6 linked regions of the Homo sapiens genome follow. The protein of the gene in region 5 purifies or fractionates together with the protein of the main gene of each other region. This does not show direct contact. Each region holds a gene or a part of one and is shown on either strand. Other genes may lie near its edges.

Region 1 (3,500 bases), on a different chromosome or scaffold from region 5:
TCCTTATCAGTACTTTTTATATAAAATGTTAACATATATATATTCTATTTATTCTATAACATGTTTCATTATAACTTAATATATTTGAAGACCACAAATACCCACACGTACATATTCATCCTGTTCTTTTAAATACAAACCTGCAACATTTAAAATTCACTTTTAGATTACAAAATAAAAGAGAAGCACACCTGTTCAGTTGTCATCTGTACTGCAGCATGCACTGGCATACTATAGCTTGGTCCAGCTCTTCCAGAGCCCCAACCACTTTCCAAATTGAATCCTAAAGCTATAATTTACAAAATAAAAAGAATAAAGCCATCAAATAAAGTAGGTTTTTATCTTTTATTAAGTAGCTTTTAAAATATGCATTAACAGGGCTGGGTGCTGTGGCTCATGCCTGTAACCCAAGCACTTTGGGAGGCCAAGGCAGGTGGTTTGCCTGAGTCCAGTAGTTTGAGACTAGCCTGGGCAACATGGTGAGATTCTGTCTCTACAAAAAATACAAAAATTAGCAGAGCGTGATGGTGTGCGCCTGTAGTCCCAGCTACTCAGGAGGCTCAGGTGGAAGGACTGCTGGAGCCCAGGAGGTCAAGGTTGCACTCAGCCACTGATCGTGGCCACTGTACTCTAGCCTGGGTGACAGAGCAAGACTCTGTCTCAAAATATATACACAAATAAATAAATAAAACGTGCATAACAAACTGCATTAAAAGCCTTGTATTTTAGAGGTATTTTAAAAGCTAAATACTAAATCACTAAAAAAACAAGTAATTCCACATTATTTGAACAAACTCTTGCCAAGCAATCCTTTTCATTCGCTATCAGAAGATTATTTTTGCCTAAAATTTATCAAAAAGAATGTTTAAAGTCAGGGGTTTCCAGATGTTACCATTAGGGAAAATTAGGGGAGGGTATATATGAGACTTCATTGCATATATACTTTTTCTTTAATTTTTTTAATATCCCCTCACTCTTACTGTGTATATTTTTATGTGTGAATCTATTTCAATAGAGGCAAAAGGAAAAATCAGAGATTTCCTCAAAAAGACTCCTGAAAAAAAGTTGTACCTTGGAGCCTTGAGCACAAATTAGCCAACAAACTCCAAGAGAGAATAAATGTTTCATAATCCCTGCATCTTACAATATCAGAATAATATTAAGTGAAACCCTAAACTTACTTTTTGGTGCAGGACCCAATTTAAATCCATGTTTCTTCAACTGATCTGAAACCGCTTTTCTATTTTCTTCTTTTCCCCAAAAAGTCATATGCAGAGGCATGGTAAAAGCATTGTTTGCACCAAAAGGAACTACCCTATTATATTTGGGAGAAAAAGAAAGGGAAATCAGAAGCATTACTTTTTATCCCCACTAAGAATTAGTTCAATATTTTAAGTGTATCATTTACATTTTACATTGAAGTAAAGTAATAAGGAACTAGTTGGGCAGACTTGAAAGAAAAAAAGGAAAAGAAATAGAACCATAAACAATCAGAAGGGTGATTTTTAGAAACAGAGTGCCAGAAAAAATTGAGAAAATGGAATAAAGCAGTTTTAAAAATGCAAGGATGGCCTGTAAACAAGATTGTAATATAAGTAAAATAAGTTAAATCAAAGGGTAGAGTTTGGCTAACGGAACCACTGAGGGTAGTAACTCATTCTGCTTGGAAAATGGGAAATGCAAGAACTTGTGATTCACTAAGTTATTCTCAATAACTGAAAAACCTGATAAACTGAAAAAGGAGAAAACAAAGTGAGACATTATGAGCATTTATTTTCTCTTCAAACTCACCTAGGATTATATGAATATCCTAAAAATTAGAATTAGAATATCAAGATCCTAAATATTCCAGATACTTAAATTGAGATCACAAGTACAAATGCCTAAAAGAGAAAAGGTAACTGAAAGATTGAAAGAGTTTAGAAAAAGAAAAAAGAAACAGGTGATAAAACTGGGAGAGCATATGCCCTAGCTAAAGGGAGAGTTCCAGTCAACTATTGTCATATGGAAGTGACAACTCATCCTGCATTGCCAGATTTCCCACTTGTCAAGAGAAAAATAAGTTTTTTGTATTTAAGAAAATAAATTAATATGTATAAAATGCGGACTTAGCTATTTCAATAATTAGTACTGAACGAAAAAATGTCTAAAACACTGCAGGGCAAAATGAAATTCACCTACATCATATCACAGAATACCAGTTTATAACCTCTGATATAAACAAACACTTCCAGGCTGGGCACGGTGGCTCACGCCTGTAATCCCAGCATTTTGGGAGGCCGAGGCGGGCAGATCACCTGAGGTCAGGAGTTCGAGACAGCCTGGCCAACATGGCAAATCTCTGTCTCTACTAAAAAATACAAAAATTAATTGGGCATGGTGGCAGGCACCTGTAGCTACTCAGGAGGCTAAGGCAGGGAGAGTTGCTTGAACCCTGGAGGCGGAGGTTGCAGTCAGCCGAGATCACACAACTGCACTGCAGCCTGGGCAACAGAGTGAGACTTCGTCTCAAAATAAATAAATAAATAAATAAACAAATAAACACTTCCAAATTCCTAAACCTAGGTACCAAAAGGTTTGGAGAAATGGAATGTACTTCCTAATATTTGAACCAAGGTCTATTTTCTCCATGGTAATAATTCCATAGGAAAATGAGAGGACAATTGTTTGATGGCTGGGGTAGTAGAAGTATGTAAAAGGAGAAATAAAACATTTATTTAACACGTACCAAAAGTACAGTGATAGAAATTGTTAGCATACCTTTATAGGCTCTAACAAGAAGCCCTAACAAGTTCAAAGATGACTATAATTCACAATTATTAAAACTAAATTCTGAAAGTACATTACCCTTCAATTTGTGCCAATTTGTTGTCCATGATATAGGCCAAAGCACCTGCAAGCTCTTTCTTTAAATGGCCAACTTGATTTCCATTCACATTGTTTACTTTAATTGCATTCTTATCATAAGGGTTATTAGGATCTCGTTGTAATGCAACCATTTCATTATTATTAACCTAATAAAAATGATAAACAGATAATATTACATTATAAATAATAGACAATAACTTTGTTATACTTTATCTGGGATTTCCATTCATTTTTTAATGCTACTGCTAAACACTGCACATAAGAAAAATATATTTTCTAGACACAAACTACAGAAATATTAATATATATTATTATGACTCCTTAATATTATTTTTCTAATCTATATTCATTAGGAAGTTAACAAATCCTTAATGTCTTAAAAAATAGTCAAATGTAAACTAGCAAATTCAAATTATCTAAAATTTTCAACATCATAACTTCTGAAAAATAGCCAACCCTTATTGAGCGCTTACTATGTGCCAAGCATTGGTCTAAGTACATTGCACAGACTGACTTTTTAAATCCTCACAGCTCTATTGGGAGGTACTATCATTATTCCCATTTTACAAATGAAGAAACTGAAGCACAGAAAAGTAACTTGCCCAAGGTCACAAAGCTAAAAGGTAGCAGAG
Region 2 (3,500 bases), on a different chromosome or scaffold from region 5:
AATCATAAGGTTCCACATGTTGCTCTGCAAGCACTAACTGTGAGTACAAGGCATGTTATTATTTGACGCAAATTTTAAATGTGTTTTTAATTACAGTAAGTTAATATTTCAATATTCATATATTTTTATTTCAATTAATAGCTTCTTGGGGCTTGTGTGGCAAACTGTGGAAAGATATTTCATTTAGAAGTATGTTCCCGTGATTTTGCAACAGAAGTACGTGCTGTGATTAAAAATAAGGTAAATTTTAAAAACAGAAGAACTTTAAGTCATTAAAAAAATGTAGATTGTGTGTCATTATAACTATATGTGGCATTACTAAAGTATTATAAATGAAGTCATTTTTAGATCATTGAAATGAAATAAACTGTTCTGAAATTTGATTTTTTAATGTGTAGCACCAAAAACTATTCTCCCCAAAGTATATATACTGTAAATAATAGCAAATCCTTTTTGAGGGCTAGTAAGTAGTCATTACTTTAAGCATTTTACATATACTGTCTTGTTGAATGCTCTTAACTACCCTTGGAGCATTAGATTCTTGGAAGTTAGATTCCCTTATCATTCTTATTTTATAAATGCAAAAACTGAGACTTAGAAGTAACTTGTCCAAGGTCATGCAGCTGGTAACTGGAATAGCCATGATTTACATCCAGGTTTCTCTGGCTCCATTCTCCGAAACATGGAGGAAATAATCTCTGAATATAAAAGATCTGTTGTCATTATAGTAAGACTTAGGAATTGGTGTTAAAAACAGTCATTTTGTATGAAACAACTATATCACAACATGTAAATAGGCATCTATCAATTACTCAACTAGGCTAGAAATTTCAGGACTTTTGTTGATGTTCATATAATTAAAGAGAATTTTGATGGTAATTCTCCTTGTTAAATAATTTAAGTACTTATTTTAACCGTAGATTTTTGTTTATTTTCCTTTCCTTTTCCTTAAAAGGCACATCCTAAAGTATGTGAAAAACTGAAATCTTTAATGGTGGAGTGGTCAGAAGAATTTCAGAAGGACCCTCAGTTTAGTCTGATATCTGCAACTATTAAATCTATGAAAGAAGAAGGAATTACTTTTCCTCCAGCAGGTTCTCAGGTGAGAGATTTATTCAGACCCATGGTTGACCCTATAATATTTTGAAGGTATGTATGTTATGTAAAGACTAGGCAAGGTATGTCTAGATTATCATTTTCCACCTTTACTTCCCAAATGACTCTCTAGCATAGTGCCTTCCTTACGTTTAGTAGACATTCTAGTTTTTATGTGTATTTCTTCCACATATCAGAACCTTGTGAAGTTAATCAGACATAGTGTATTTAATGTTCCTCTAAGTCTACAGTCATGCAAAAGGCATAGGTATATGACATACCCCTTATATTCAAGAAATTTGTAGCAAATTTGAATGATAGCTTTATACATGTGAAAAATAACTAATTTAGATTGTAAGTGACAAATACAGGATGAGGGGAATAGACTGCATACTGTCTATCTTAATACCAAAGAGAGAAAGAGGTGACTACAGATTGGAATGGTGAAGAAGGTAAAGAGGTAGAATTTTGAGACTTGAATGTATTAATATTTTGTTAGAGAGAAGTGAAGAAGTCATATCAGGAGGTAAGTGAAATGAACAAATTCATGGAATTGAGAGGCTCAAGACTTGTTTGTTCAAGAGTGAATATGCCTAGAGTGAATGCTTCACATACAAGATGGATGGAAATGTAAGACTAGAAATTTATTTGCTGGGAGAAGGGATAGCTTTAGTAGAACTGGGGTGTGGAGGCAGGGATGTTGACTCATGGAGTGGGCTGGTTTTTTTAGGTCTAGGGGAGAAAAATACTATTCCTTGGGTTTTGCTCTCAGTACCTTATTCCTTCCCATTAATATTAAGATATGGGCTAGGGAAAGAGACGATGAGAAGTACTATATTTTCTTTTATTTTAAATCATAGATTAAAGAGAAAAAAAGATTTTTTTTTTTTTTTTTTTGAGATGGAGTTTTGCTCTTGTTGCCCAGGCTGGAGTGCAGTGGCACAACCTCAGCTCACTGCAATCTCTGTCTCCCGGGTTTAAGCAATTCTCCTGCCTCCGCCTTTAGAGTAGCTGGGATTGCAGGTGCCTACCACCATGCCCGGCTAATTTTTTGTATTTTTAGTAGAGACGGGGTTTCACCATGTTGACCAGGCTGGTCTCAAACTTCTGACCTCAGGTGATCCACCTGCCTCGACCTCTCAAAGTGCTGGGATTACAGGCATGAGCCACCACGCTGGCCGAAAAAAGATTCTTTATAGCTGACCAGACCTAAGGGTACAAGGTAACGTTTTGAGATAAGAGTCTTATAAGTAATAAAAAGGAAACATTTTCCTGTTCTGTCCTTTCTGCATATTTTTCTGAAAAATCTATGTAAAGAACCGGTTGATGGATCAGTCCTGGATACCTGTCTTACATGCTGTTTATTAAATTCAAGCATGACCTTCCTTACTTCTCTGCTATGTCTGGCAGACCACTGCCACCCAGCCACAATAACTAGTAAAAGGACTTCACACATATTCCTAGAACTGCACCTCTTGTCTCTGTCCCCATTCCTCTCTCTTCAGTGATGATCATGACTTCTTGCTGGCACTCCTCGTGTAGCTGTACTCCTATAGCAGAGCTCCTCTCACTAAGAGACCTTGGACAATTGAGATCGGGAATACAATCAGAAAAGAGTCTTTTTTAAATTCTATTAATATTTAAGTACTTTCTGTATGCCAAGTTCTGTGTTACATTTATGCAAAATCTAAGCCAGTTTGATCCCTGTGTGAGTTTATAATGTTTTCTTGAAAAATCTGATGTTTTATTTTAGTATTTGAAAACAATTATTTAAAATTATTATAAAGAACTTCACTTTTAGACCAGTGATGGTGGCTCATGCCTGTAATCTTAGCACTTTGGTAGGCTGAGACAGGAGAATCACTTGAGGCTAAGAGTTGCAGATCAGCCCAGGAAACATAGTGAGACCCTGTCTCTACAAAAAATAAAAATTAGCCGGTTGTGGATGCATACACCTCTAGTTCCGGCTTCCCAGGAGGCTGAGGCAAGAGGATCACTTGAGCCCAGGAGTTGGAGGTTACAGTGAGCTATGACTGTGCCATGCACTGCAACCTGGCTGACAGAATGAGACCCTGTCTCAAAAAAGAACTTCACTTTTAAATGAAACTCAGTTATATCAGTATTTTTTAAAATTTACCATCTGCAAGTAATTATGGAGCTTGTGTTTTGTTTGAAAAGATAGTTGTGTTCATTTTACTCATACATTTACAGACTGTCTCAGCTGCTGCCAAGAATGGTACGTCATCGAACAAAAACAAAGAGGATGAAGACATAGCTAAAGGTAAATGATCAAGCACATGTAATTTAGTGTTGCTTAAAATATCTTTGCCAGGGCTGGGCGCGGTGGCTCACGCCTGTAATCCCAGCACTTTGGGAGGCCGAAGTGGGCAGATCATGAGGTCAAG
Region 3 (3,500 bases), on a different chromosome or scaffold from region 5:
TCCCAGCACTTTGGGAGGCCGAGGCGGGTGGATCACGAGGTCAGGAGATCAAGGCCAACCTGGCTAACACGGCGAAACCCCGTCTCTACTAAAAATACAAAAAAATTAGCCTGGCGTGGTGACGGGCGCCTGTAGTCCCAGCTACTCAGGAGGCTGAGGCAGGAGAATGGCGAGAACCCGGAAGGCGGAGCTTGCAGTGAGCTGAGATTGCAGCACTGCACTCCAGCCTGGGCCACGGAGTGAGACTCCGCCTCAAAAAAAAAAAAAAAAAAAAAAAAAAAGGGCCTCAACCCTGAGGATTCTGATTCAATAGGTCTGGAGTGGGATGGATATATCTGTAATTTTTTTCAAAAGTGTGATGGCTGATTCTGCTGCATAACCCTGTATAAAAGCTATTTCCTTTAAACAACAACAACAACAAAAAACTATTAGCATAATTAGTATATTATATGCTGTAACTGCCAAGTAAAAAAATTCCGTTAAACTTTATTTTAATTTTAAACATTAGTTTTAGAAAGTTTCAAACAGCTATTCCAAATAATCTCAAATGCATTTGAGAATTTATTTATTTATTTATTTATTTTAGAGACAGGGTGTCGCTGTTGCCCAGGCTAGACTGCAGTGGTGTGAACACGGCTCACTGCAGCCTCGACCTTCTGGGCTCAAGCTATCCTCCCACCTCAGCTTTTCGAGAGCAGGGACCAAGGAACATGCCCCAGCCTGGCTAATTTTTTTTTTTTTTTTTGGTAGAGACAGAGTCTCACTATGTTACCCAGGCTGGTCTTAAACTCCTGGTCTCAAGCAATCCTCTTGCCTTGGCCTCCCAAATTGCTGAGATTACAGGCATGAGCTACCACACCTCACTGTGCATTTGAGAATTTAAAACAACATGGGCTTCTAAAAGCTTACCTGAGAACCAGAAACACCAGATGACTGCATATAATATGGCTGATTCTGTAACTTTGCATACATGGAATACATCGGATCTTCGTTCATTAACTTGGTATATAAGGAAAGGGCCTCCATCACTTTCACATTAAGTTCTGAGAGTTCTGAATGTTTTCTGAAACATGACACAATAATTTGAAGCATAGCTGTTACTAAAATGATATAATGCTCTAAATAATGATACATCAAAATATCAAAAATGGCAAAAAGTAGTACTAGTAGACATTATTAAAAATTTCACTTATAACAAAAATATCCTGCATTTTAGCCCTGAAGCAACCCAAACTGTTTAAGGTTTACGTGCTGTGCTAAGGGAACTCCGTCTTATCGTACCTGACTGTACCAGAAATATCTTGGTTTCCCTAGTTACTAACATATGGGTCATTTGTGAGCTCTGGTAATGCCACTTCAGCAAAGAGAATTACATAGCTAGCCCTTGTTTTTAAAACGACCTATCTACGCTGGTCCTTTTGACTATATTGCAAAGGTCGATCAAATCCTCACTTTAAAAAAAAGGACAAATGAGTCTAATTCTCCACATCTAGCACAAGATATGTGAATGAGAGTTGGTTCCTCCACAATATTTTTTTTTTAAAAGGCAGTTATAGCCCACTTTGCAGTACAGTGATAGCTTCAGGAAAGAAGGTACACAACATAAATGCACCCATGTTCTTTTACCTATCAATATCTTCCAGCTTTTCATCAATGAGAGGTCCCATCTGGTGACACATTGCTAAAATGACAAGATGTGAAGAAATATAAGAAAGTACAAGAAAAAAAAATGTGAACCTTTGATAGATATTTGTATAATTTAAGGAATAAAAGATTTAATTTGGAGTAATAAAAATATACATTCTTTAACCTTAGTCTACAGAACCCAAAATTGATTTTCTTAAAGTATAATGGTGACAACTTAATCTAAAATATTAATCTGAAAATCTTAAAGTGCCATTTTTCATTTTACCAGGTTCTAAAATGTTGAACAGAACACTTCGTTTGGATAGAAAATTATAAGAATTCAAATTCTACCCAAGGTTTCAACTGCATATGAGAGTGAGCCTGGGTCAAGGAGAAGTGAGAAATGTTCCATTTTTAATATTATCCTCAAAACCCATTCTTTAACAGGACACCAGTTATTAACCTCTAACTACTCTTTATTTGCAAGGTAAATAGAAAAGTTTTACCTTCAAGATGAAGCAGCTCTGGTAGGTCTGGCTGATCATCACTGGGGTCTGTACTTTGCAGCATCTGTAGCAACTGGTCCATTTTATCCTACAGGAATTAAGTAGTTAATATAAAAAGCTACCAACCTTTAGGCAACTTTATGTTTTCACTTTATTATCAACTAGACAAACTTTTGAAATTCATAGTTATGGAGACTCCAATTTTGCTTTTATGTTGTCAGTGTCCCATGTATTTATTCTCTCTAGTACTGCATGAAGTCAGAGCCTTGAAAGTACTTCCTATATATTTTTGAAACTGCTCAGGAGGCTGAGGTGGGAGAATCACTTGAGCCCAGGAGGTCAAGGCTGCAGTGAGCTATGATCTCGCCACTGCACTTCAGTCTGGACAACAGTGCAAGACCCTGTTTAAATAAATAAATAAACCAACCAACCAACTGCTAACAGAGATTCTCTTAAGCGAGAAGAAATCAAGCCACATTTAAACTTACAATGCGTGAGTTCTTCCACCTCTTATGTCATGCCAGAGGATTTTGCTTTGTTTCGGAGCAGCTTTAGCTTAGCCATGCCAACAAGTGTACTATCCATCTCAAGATGGCATTGCTTATGACTAACAACTTGTCATTCCTACTTGCCCATGGTGAATACAGCAGCTGTTTCAGTAAGGCAGAGCTCAGCTGTATCACAGCTGCTCTTCTAAGTGGGACTCTTAGGGTTTATTCCACATTTTCTTTCTACCAGTGTTTCAGTTGGTCATAAAAGGAAGGAGGAAGACTAGTGGTTTCTCTATTTTCCTATTTGGGAGAGGCTGGAAGGTACCTCAAACCAGTGACACAGATCTATTTCAGAATCTTTTGTTGTACAGACCAATGGAATGAATGAAACCATTATTACATACACACATCTATACGATATATAAGTATATATGTATTTATGTTTTTTAAAAAATCCAAACAGATCTACTTTACCATGACCACTACTAAAATAATTACAAACCTTTCTCCATGCATGGTTTTTACATGGTTATGCTACTATATATAGGTACGCAGGGCAAATAAAGACTACTAATCCTAAGCAAAGTAATTATTTAAAATTTAAAAACTATGTTCTGTGTAAAAGGAAAATAGCTTGAGAAACGAATTAATCATCAGAGAGTGAAAGTGACATAAGTATGCTAAAAAAAAAAAAAACTCTTCCCAAGTCAAAATAATTCTGTTTTTTTGAAATGGATACCAATTTTCAATGTAAATTATTCACAATTTTCATTTTAAGCAGTCTTAAAAAACAAAAGCACATGTCAAGAAAGTTTGCCTACCACACACAAAAAAAGGTCAAATGAAAGTGAGAGTCCATTAACACACAGATGGTTTC
Region 4 (3,500 bases), on a different chromosome or scaffold from region 5:
CTTGATATCCAGACTTCTGGGAGATTATCTGACTGGTTAAGGCAAGAGTGAAAGAATAACCTGAATGTCAGAATTCTCATTCTAGGTGGAAAGTAATTACTGTTAAAACCAGTCTGGGCCAACCTCTTCAACGGTATTTCCTAAAGACGTGTGCTTTAAAATGCAAAAGAATTAGAAGTATCCTAGTTGGATAAATTCTAGCACGCACATCTGTAAAACACAACACTATTCAATCACTTAAAATGTTGATGTAGGCCAGGTGTGGTGGCTCATGCCTGTAATCTCTGTGCTTTAGGAGGCTGAGGTGGGAAGACTGCTTGAGCCCAGGAGCTTGAGGCTGCAGTGAGCTATGATGGCACCACTGTACTACAACCTGGGCAACAGCATGAGAGCCCTGTTTCTAAAGAATAAGAAAGAGTTGATGGAGGTCTAGACTGATAAACATGGGCGGAAAGCCATGATATATTTTTAGTGAAATATGTGTGGTCCAACACAACAATGTACAATAGTCATTATTATAAAAATGTTTCAAAATATTAAATATTTCAGAACAAATACACAAGTTTTGAAGACTATACATATATAAAAATAACCAGGGGCCAGGCGCAGTGGCTCATGCCTGTAATCCCAGCTTTGGGAGGCCAAGGCGGGCAGATCACGAGGTCAGGAGATCAAGACCATCCTGGCCAACATGGTGAAACCCCGTCTCTACTAAAAATACAAAAATTAGACGGGTGTGGTGGTGCGCACCTGTAGTCCCAGCTAGTCAGGAGGCTGAGGCAGGAGAATCACTTGAACCCAGGAAGCAGAGGTTGCAGTGAGCCATGACGGTGCCACTGCACTCCAGCCTTAAGACAGAGTGAGACAATGTCTCAAAAAAATAAAAATAAAAATAAAATAAAATAACCAGCAGTTATTTCTGAATGATGGGATTATGGTGATTTTTCACTCATTCATGTCTCTTTCATGTGTTCTGAATGTTTTACAAACAACATGTATTACTTAGTTTTTAAAATTTGATCATTTGTTATCCAAGTAATTCCTGCTTGTATTTAGAAAATCAAATAGTAATGACTGTAATGAAAAACAGTCTCTCTACTGTCTGGATAAGACTCCCACACCTAGTCTTCATCCCTAAAGGTAACTAATTGCAACTCAGTTGTTGCTACTGGATAGTTAACTGCATTTCTCTAAATATTGTGCTTATCCTATAACTTTTTGGCTCATCCATTTTAGACATTATCGATTTACTCATGCTACTGTAGATTAGGATGTAGTTCTGAAACTACCCTCAATATCTCCTCCCTCTACTCTTCTAATATAGATACATCCCTATTTTTAATTGAACAAATAATCCGTGCTATATTGTTGTGACTGTAAGGCTATCTACTAAGTACTATATTATGAATACATTTCCTTCCTCAAAGAGCTTTTTGTTTTCCCTAGAGTTTTAATTTTTCCTTCTTCAATGGTTTTCTCCACTTTAATTTCAATTTTAATTGCTGTACCACAGAACTCACCCCCACCCCTTTATTTTCTCAGAAGGCTTCCCCCTCCAAACCCTCCTTCTTCTCATTACAATCTAGGCTGACTGCCCTCTAGATCTGCTGGCACAGCTGTCACCTTTGGTGTTTTCCTTTACTGCTTTTCTGGGTTACAGCCATTGTTTCCTGAATTCTAATGCCTCCTTCTTTCTTTGTTCACTCCATAGTTTTGCTGAAATACATCCCCAATACCTTAAGAAAGTAATATAAGAAAAGGCACATGGGTTGGCAACTTAGTCCTTGCATGCCTGAAAAGGTCTTTCCTCCACATTTACACTTGATTTAGCAATTCTCTCAGCTCTTGAAAGCATTGCTGTAAGTTCCTCTAGCATCCAATGTTGCCACTGATTTCAATGCCATTCTGTTTCATACAGCTTTAAAGGGATCCTATTTTCATTCTTTCCTCCACTCCCTCGTCATCTCCTTCCCTAAGCTTTCAGGATTTTCTCTTTTTCCTTGGTGTTGTGACATTTCTTGTTTGTTTTTTCTATCATTAGTTTTTCTGTGCATTTAGAAAGCCCCTTCGATCTAGAAATTTGCGGCACTTAAGCTCCGGGAAATTTTCTTGTATCCATTATTAATCATCATCTCTGTTTTCTTTGCTCTTTCTTGAACTCAAATGAGTCAGATACTGGAACTTTCAAACTGATCCCTCATCTTTTATGCATTCTGTATTATCTATCTTTGTCCTTTCATTTATTTTTGTAACACTTCCTTTACTATTTTATAACTGGAGGTTTTTTCAAAGCAAATTATAGTATGATGGAAAAAAAATCAAAGCAATATCTTCAATAAGGAAATGGCTAGACAAATTATGGTACATCCATTCTATGTGGTCATTAAAGAACGAAAACTATATATGCTGATATGTTTCAAGACATGTCACCTTAAAAACTTGTTATCTGCATCCATTAAAGTACAGAGAAAAAATTTAAAATGTCTGGCTATAGAAAAATAGAGGAAAATGGATTTAATTCTTTCAACGAATATTAACTAGGCACCCACTTGTTGCCTGGCACTATTCTAAATGCTGAGGATACGGTAGTGAGCACAAAAGTCCTCTTGGCATTTAGCTGGGGAAAGAGCTTAACTAGAAGTGGCAGCAAGTTAAGCGAAGTATTTTTTTTCCCCAAGCACTGTGAAGCACTGAAGGAAGAGGCCATAACAGGAGGAAAAATGGAGGCACAGAGAGCCAATCAACAGACTCAGGTTGCTGGAAAATCATACCACCAAGGGACTGCTAAGGATGGAAAAGACTTGCTTTGATATCCTGGTTACCAGAGAAAATGCTACATCATGTATCTGAATTCACATATTTGATTATGTTTCTGACAGTCACAAATCCATCCCTCTTCCCTCGTATCTCTAGTTTTCCTAGAAGTTGAAGATGGTAGGACATGGACTCATTTAAAATTATGTCTACAATTAATATGCAGTATGTTTGGACCCCTCTCCACTGATTTTAAGTATCATTTTATTTTATTTTTGAGATGGAGTCTCGCTCTGTCACCCAGGCTGGAGTGCACTGGTACAATCTCGGCCCACTGCAACCTCCGCCTCCTGGGTTCAAGCGATTCCCCTGTCTCAGCCTCCCAAGTACCTGGGATTACAGGCATGCGCCACCATGCCGGCAATTTTTATATTTTTAGTAGAGACGGGATTTCGCCATGTTGGCCAGGCTGGTCTCGAACTCCTGACCTCAAGTGATCTGCCCACCTTGGCCTCCCAAAGTGCTGGGATTACAGGCATGAGCCACCACGCCTGGCCTCCACTGATTATTTAGCAATATTTTTAAGTCTCAAGGGTTTGTCTTGGCCTACAACTTGACAAGGAGCTCAGGGCTACTGTCTCGTGGTCTGAGACAGTCAGGAGACAAAGTATATTTACTCCAAGTACCCATGTATGCTTTTTCCAAGATGAGAAGTTTTCTTTTTGATGTATAAGAGCAAATAATGT
Region 5 (3,500 bases):
CAGTAATTTTATGGTTCATGAAGAGCAGGTATCAAAATATCTCAATTTTGTGGCTCCTCAGTAACATTACAGGGGATAAGACAAGTAAAAAAAAGAAACAGAAAGTTATGGGAAAAGACTGGGAAAAAAATAAAAACATCTCTAATTCTGAAAATGCTAAAATTAGTACTTTCATCAATATCTCATACAACATATTAATTCCTCCCTTGTATATTGGAAGTCACTATGTGGGCAATTTTGCTGAAGTATAAAGCATTCCCTCTTTACAGCAAAATTCATTAAGTGCATCCAAAGTAAAAATAATGTTAAAAAAATAGGAAAAGTAAAAGACAGCAATTTTTATATAGGAGGTTTGTGCACTAGTCAATACAGCTTACCTTAAAAATAGTGGAAGATCTTTTTTCTGCTGTTACTTCCATTGGAGTAACATCTTCACTCTTAATCATACTGCTTGGTATGAGTGGAGTCATCAGGGCATTAGGGATAATATTTACCTTATCTAAATTACATCCAGTAGTTTTCATTGCTGCATATACACACACACAAAAAGAAAAGTTTAAAATCACAAAATTTACCAACTATTTCATTCTAAAATTTGTTATTAGCCATGATTTAAATGTCTATTTTTTTGATGCTACAATGGTAGCATGAGATACAAACCTGGTATATTAAGATATATCTTCCCTTTTATGAAGTGCATTGGCTGGGGGACCTCTGGAATGGGCCTGGAACTATAGCTTAAATATTAATAATAAGCTTAAGCAGTTCAATTACCAAGCTATATTCCCCAAGACGGTTCCAAGTGCCTTGAATCATACTACCCAACCTGACCAAGAGTATATTATAGGATACAGCTTAAAAATCTCCAGGAGGATAAAGCTACTCAATTACAAACTACACTCTCCTCTTAGCATTTAGCTATCTGACAATATAGTCTCAGAACTTCTTAAGGACTATGAGATTGTCAGAGCACTTCTTTCTTAAACTAAGTTCAAGCTTCTCATTAGAAAATACCACCCAGTGATTAATAAATTTTGCTTTTCTAAATTAAAAGAAAACTAAATTAATTAGAAAACTTGAATATGACAAGTTGACACATGGACACAATTCTCTTTTAGACTGGACTTTAAACATCTTTTTTTTTTTCCCCAGAAATAAGGGCTATTTTAGGTTTACAAACCAAATTTCCCAAGCAAAATGAAAAATTATTTCCCACCTCCTACTACCTCCATTTTCAGGAGTAGTTAGTTCTAGATTTATACCTAGAGGCAACATATAGCAAGATTCTACCACTTCACTATATCTACCTTTCCCCCTTGATTGCTTTTCTTTCTTCTTTTTTGTCTACTTGAGTCCGCAGTGGCACTCAGTGGTACCTACTGCTATTGCTAATGACAGTCTTCTGAGTTGAGCACATAGCCAAATCCTGATTTAAAAGTTTACTACCACTTGGAAGCTCTATGGAAACAGTCTTCAGAAAGCATAGCTGTTAAATTTCTTAATTTGATATCGAGAAGAAATCTTGGCTATAAAGAAGCTTTTAAAATGGCACATGGTCTATAAGTTGGATCGCTCCCTTCATAAATTTTTGTTGTTGTTGTCAGTCAATATGCTGCTGAAAGGCCAAGTGTGGTGGCTCATGCCTGCAATCCCAGCACTTTGGGAGGCCGAGGCAGGTGGCTCACTTGAGGCCAGCAGTTCGAGACCAGCCTGGCCAACATGGTGAAACTCTGTCTCTACTAAAAATACAAAAATTAGCAGGGCATGGTGGCACATGCCTGTAAATCCCAGCTACTTGGGAGGCTGAGGCACAAGAATTGCTTGAATCCAGGAGGAGGTGGTTGCAATGAGCTGAGATCGCTCTACTGTACTGCAGGCTGGGCAACGGAGCAAGACTGTCTCAAAATCTGCTGAAAGTAAATATTTTCATCTAAAAATATTTGCAATTTTCTTGTCTTACTTCAACTTGCCTCACAGCCATTTGGCTAAAAACCTAATTCCTATGAAAACTGATTATTTTGACAGAGGGGAAAGTGCTCATTTAACTTTTGACATTCCATGTTTTATTATTCTACCTAAGTAGTTTGAGAAATGAATCATTTATTCATGAGTTCTTTGGACCTATTTTCACCTAAATTCTAATACCAATACAATTCCCCTAACAACCAGATTTTTATTTTATTTTATCTTATTTGAGACAGGGTCTCTCTCTGTTGGTGGGAGTGCAGTGGTACAATCAGGCCTCACTGCAACCTCCACCTCCTGGGCTCAGGCAATCCTCCCACCTCAGCCCCATAAGTAGCTGGGACTACAGGCACACACCACCATGCCTGACTAATTTTTAAAATTTTTTTGTAGAGACAAGAGTCTCGTTACTTTGCCTAGGCTGGTCTTGAACTCCTGAGCTCAAGTGATCCTCCCTACTAGGCTGCCCAAAGTGCTGGGATTATAGGCGTGAGCCACCACACTCGGCCTACAACCTAATTTTGACTGAGACAAAACTTCAGATCATGCACAGGGCAGGCATTTAAAAGTAATCTAAGAATATCCCATAGAACATTTTGAAAAACCATTAGTGTTATCTTAAGTTGATCCTGTAATAGTCAACTACTATTCTTGCTTTTGAATTCCATTAGATCATGAGCTCTGTGAAGGCAGATGTTGTTATCACCTGTTGCACAGTAGGTAATCAACAAATGTTTGCTGAATGAATGAAGAAAATAATCTTACTTTAGCTTTATCACTGTCAATTTAGTTTGTTGTGGATTGTTTGGTTAATCCTATAAAAATAAAAATATGGGCCAGGCGCATTGGCTCATGCCTGTAATCCCAGCAATTTGGGAGGCAGAGGTGGGTGGACCACGAGGTCAGGAGTTCGCCAGCCTGACCAACATGGTGAAACCCCGTCTCTACTAAAAATACAAAAAAAGTAAAAATAAAAAAAAGCCAGGTGTGGTAGAGGGCACCTGTTACCTCAGCCTCTGGAACCCAGGAGGCAGAGGTCAGAGGTTGCAGTAAGCCGAGACCACGCCACTGCATTCCAGCCTGGGCAACAAAGCAAGACTCCATCTCAAATAATAATAATAATAAATAAAAATAAAAATATACAGTCTGTATTTTTCTTTTTAAAAATATTCATTCATTCATTCATTCATTTACTCACTCATTCATTCAATTAGAGACAGGGTCTCACTCTGTTACCCAGGCTGGAGTGAGTACCTGCAGCCTCAAACTCCTGGTTTTTTTTTTTTTTTTTTTTTTTTGAGACGGAGTCTCGCTCTGTCGCCCAGGCGGGACTGCGGACTGCAGTGGCGCAATCTCGGCTCACTGCAAGCTCCGCTTCCCGGGTTCACGCCATTCTCCTGCCTCAGCCTCCCGAGTAGCTGGGACTACAGGCGCCCGCCACCGCGCCCGGCTAATTTTTTTTGTATTTTTAGTAGAGACGGGGTTTCACCTTGTTAGCCAGGATGGTCTCGATCTCCTGACCTCATGATCCACCC
Region 6 (2,781 bases), on a different chromosome or scaffold from region 5:
GTAATCCCAGCACTTTAAGAGGCCAAGGCGGGCAGATCACCTGAGGTCAGGAGTTCGAGACCAGCCTGGCCAACATGGCAAAACCTCATCTCTACTAAAAATACAAAAATTAGCTGTGGTGGCACATGCCTGTAATCCCAGCTACTTGGGAGTCTGACCCAGGAGGATCACTTGAAGCTGGGAGGTGGAGGTTGCAGTGAGCCAAGATCGCGCCACTGCACTCCACCCTGGGCAACAGAGCAAGACTCTGTCTCAGAAAAAGAAAGAAAGAAAGAAACAGTACTATTTTAAGATTTTTATGCTATATATGTAGATACTATTTGCAACTTGCTTTTTAGTACACATCTTTAAAAGGACTGTACAAAATCTTTCCCCTCACAAAAAGACTTTATTTTTACCTTTAAGCTCTGTTTGTTTGTTTGTTTTAAGTGGTTTCCAGTAAACATTCTTTTTCTTTTTTCTTCTTTTGTTTTGAGACAGGGTCTCACTCTGTCAACCAGGCTGAGTGCAGTGGCACAATCACAGCTCATTGCAACCTTGACCTCCTGGACTCAAGATATCCCCACTTCAGCCTCTCAAGTAGCTGGGACTACAGGTGTACACCACCACACCAGCTAATTTTATTTTTGTAGAGATGAGGTCTCAGTATGTTGCCTAGGCTGGTCTCACTCCTGGTCACGGTGTCGGGATTATGGGCATGAGCCACCCACTCAGCCTCCATTCTTTACGTGTATTTCTACACATGTATTTCTTGAAGGATCACAAGCTATATTCACTTAAAGTCAAGAGATAGTGCCAATTTATATTCATTGAAGTACAGAGAAATAAGGGGGGAAAAAAGGAAGGAAAAAAATCCCAGAGTCAAACCAGAAAGAAAAAAGGGAAAAAATGCCAGAATGTCCTCCAGAGTATTTGTACCATTTACATTCCCAGGGGCAGTACATGAGAGTGCCTGTTATGAACATTTTAAAATGGTTGTCAGTCTAGCGGCTGACAAAAAGCGAACCTCACTGCTTTAACATTTCCCTCATTATGCACAAAGTTTGGAATAATTTCATGTTTACAAGGCCATCTTTCACAGACCGGTTTCCTTCTGTTAGGTCTCTTATTTACAGAAATAAATCTTTATATAACCTATACATCTCGTAATTCTTTCTCTTTATATAAAAGTTGCAAATATTTTTCCCAGTTAACAGACTTATTTTTAAGTTTCTTTATGGTATCTTTTGTCACATACAAGTAGAAATGTTGGGGCAAGTAGATACCATAAAACTCCGTACTTCCCTCAGTAATGTATGTGAGGTACCCTTTTCCTTATATGCCCAATGACAGACAGTATTACCACTTTATAATTTTTGCTACGTGACATCTCATTTCTTATTTTTATAGTTGTAGTATATACGTATATGACCCTAAAACTGCTATCATTTATTTTCTAAAATTATAAAATATCATACTTTGTGTATTCTGTTGCAACTTGTTTTTTCATTCAATTTTTCTAAGATTTATTCATGTTGAAATGATTATTCATTCAGTCATTACAAATAAACATTCCATTCTATAAATACAGTCACAATTTATGTACCTATTCTTTTTTCCCCCCATTTTTATGTTTAGGCTCAATATGTACCTATTCTGTTATCAATGAATCTTGAGGTTGTTTCCTGATTTTTTGCTGCTATGAAAATTCTTATACATACTTCCTCCAAGTTCCTCTCAGTCACACAGACTAAAACAGCTGGGTCACAGAGTATACCCACGTCAACTGTACAAGATAAGGCCTAATTTCCAAAATGGCTGCATCAATTTACACTCCTATAGTAGTATCTATGAATTCCTGACCATTGTTCCAAATCCTTGCCAACTCTTGGTTAGACTTTAAAATTTTTGCCAATTGGGTGGGTATAAAGGGTATCTAAATGTGTAGCATTAATGTGTATTTCTTTGATTACTAATAAGGCTGAGTAGTCTTTTATATGATTATTAACTACTTGTGTGTTTTTTTTTGTTTGTTTTATTTTTGAGACAAGAGTCTTGCTCTGTTGCCCAGGCTGAAGTACAATGGCGTGATCATGGCTCACTGCAACCTCTGCCTCCAGGTTCAAGTGATTCTCCTGCCTCTACCACATCTAGCTAATGTTTTAAATTTTTTTTAGAGATGGGGTCTCCCTATATTGCCCAGGCTGGTCTCAAACTCCTGGGCTCAAGTGATCCTCCTGCCTTGGCCTCCGAAAATGCTGGGATTACACGTGTGAGCCACCACGCCTGGCCTGTATGGTTTTTTCCATTAAAATGTTTCTGTGCATATTTATGGAGCACATGAGAAAATCTGTTACATGTATATAATGTGTAGCGATCAAGTCAGGGGATTCAGGGTGTCCATCACCTGAGTATTAATAGGTTTTTGTTAAGGGTGGTCATCCTACTCTGCTATGAAACACTGAATTTATTCCTTTTATCTTACTGTGTATGGGTTTGTACCCTTTAACTCTCTTCATCCTCCTCCTTGCCCCTCACCGTTCCCAGTCTCTGTTACCTATTTTTCCATTCTCTCTTTTTTCTTGAGATAGGGTCTTGCTCTGTTGCCCAGGCTGAAGTGCAGTGGTGCGATCATGCTGCCTCAACCCCCTGGGCTCAAGCAATCCTCCCACCTCAGCCTCCCGAGTAGCTGGGATTTTAGGCACACGCCACCATGCCTGGCTAATTTTTTATCTTTTGTAGCAATGGGTATGTTGCCCAGGCTTGCATTGAACTCCTAGGCTCAAGTGATCCTCCCGCCTC

What was found.
Region 1: the proteins of NFAT5 (region 5) and HLTF purify together in Homo sapiens (affinity purification with western blotting, with the first as the bait; one study listed by BioGRID). This does not show direct contact.
Region 2: the proteins of NFAT5 (region 5) and STAM2 purify together in Homo sapiens (affinity purification with western blotting, with the first as the bait; one study listed by BioGRID). This does not show direct contact.
Region 3: the proteins of NFAT5 (region 5) and STAM purify together in Homo sapiens (affinity purification with western blotting, with the first as the bait; one study listed by BioGRID). This does not show direct contact.
Region 4: the proteins of NFAT5 (region 5) and WDR48 purify together in Homo sapiens (affinity purification with western blotting, with the first as the bait; one study listed by BioGRID). This does not show direct contact.
Region 6: the proteins of NFAT5 (region 5) and ATF1 purify together in Homo sapiens (co-immunoprecipitation; one large-scale study listed by IntAct). This does not show direct contact.

Annotation. Positions count from the first base shown.
Region 1 is NC_000003.12:149,073,034-149,076,533, forward strand, and holds part of HLTF (helicase-like transcription factor), read right to left. Parts: intron 3,015-3,500; coding exon 2,848-3,014; intron 1,316-2,847; coding exon 1,182-1,315; intron 290-1,181; coding exon 192-289; intron 1-191. UniProt on the Homo sapiens protein: Has both helicase and E3 ubiquitin ligase activities. Possesses intrinsic ATP-dependent nucleosome-remodeling activity; This activity may be required for transcriptional activation or repression of specific target promoters.
Region 2 is NC_000002.12:152,144,764-152,148,263, reverse strand, and holds part of STAM2 (signal transducing adapter molecule 2), read left to right. Parts: coding exon 1-39; intron 40-141; coding exon 142-240; intron 241-955; coding exon 956-1,102; intron 1,103-3,306; coding exon 3,307-3,376; intron 3,377-3,500.
Region 3 is NC_000010.11:17,703,151-17,706,650, reverse strand, and holds part of STAM (signal transducing adapter molecule 1), read right to left. Parts: intron 2,221-3,500; coding exon 2,133-2,220; intron 1,682-2,132; coding exon 1,627-1,681; intron 1,064-1,626; coding exon 910-1,063; intron 1-909. UniProt on the Homo sapiens protein: Involved in intracellular signal transduction mediated by cytokines and growth factors. Upon IL-2 and GM-CSL stimulation, it plays a role in signaling leading to DNA synthesis and MYC induction. May also play a role in T-cell development.
Region 4 is NC_000003.12:39,055,016-39,058,515, reverse strand, and holds part of WDR48 (WD repeat-containing protein 48), read right to left. Parts: intron 1-3,500. UniProt on the Homo sapiens protein: Regulator of deubiquitinating complexes, which acts as a strong activator of USP1, USP12 and USP46. Enhances the USP1-mediated deubiquitination of FANCD2; USP1 being almost inactive by itself.
Region 5 is NC_000016.10:69,687,966-69,691,465, reverse strand, and holds part of NFAT5 (nuclear factor of activated T-cells 5), read right to left. Parts: intron 527-3,500; coding exon 378-526; intron 1-377. UniProt on the Homo sapiens protein: Transcription factor involved, among others, in the transcriptional regulation of osmoprotective and inflammatory genes. Binds the DNA consensus sequence 5'-[ACT][AG]TGGAAA[CAT]A[TA][ATC][CA][ATG][GT][GAC][CG][CT]-3'.
Region 6 is NC_000012.12:50,816,101-50,818,881, reverse strand, and holds part of ATF1 (cyclic AMP-dependent transcription factor ATF-1), read right to left. Parts: intron 1-2,781.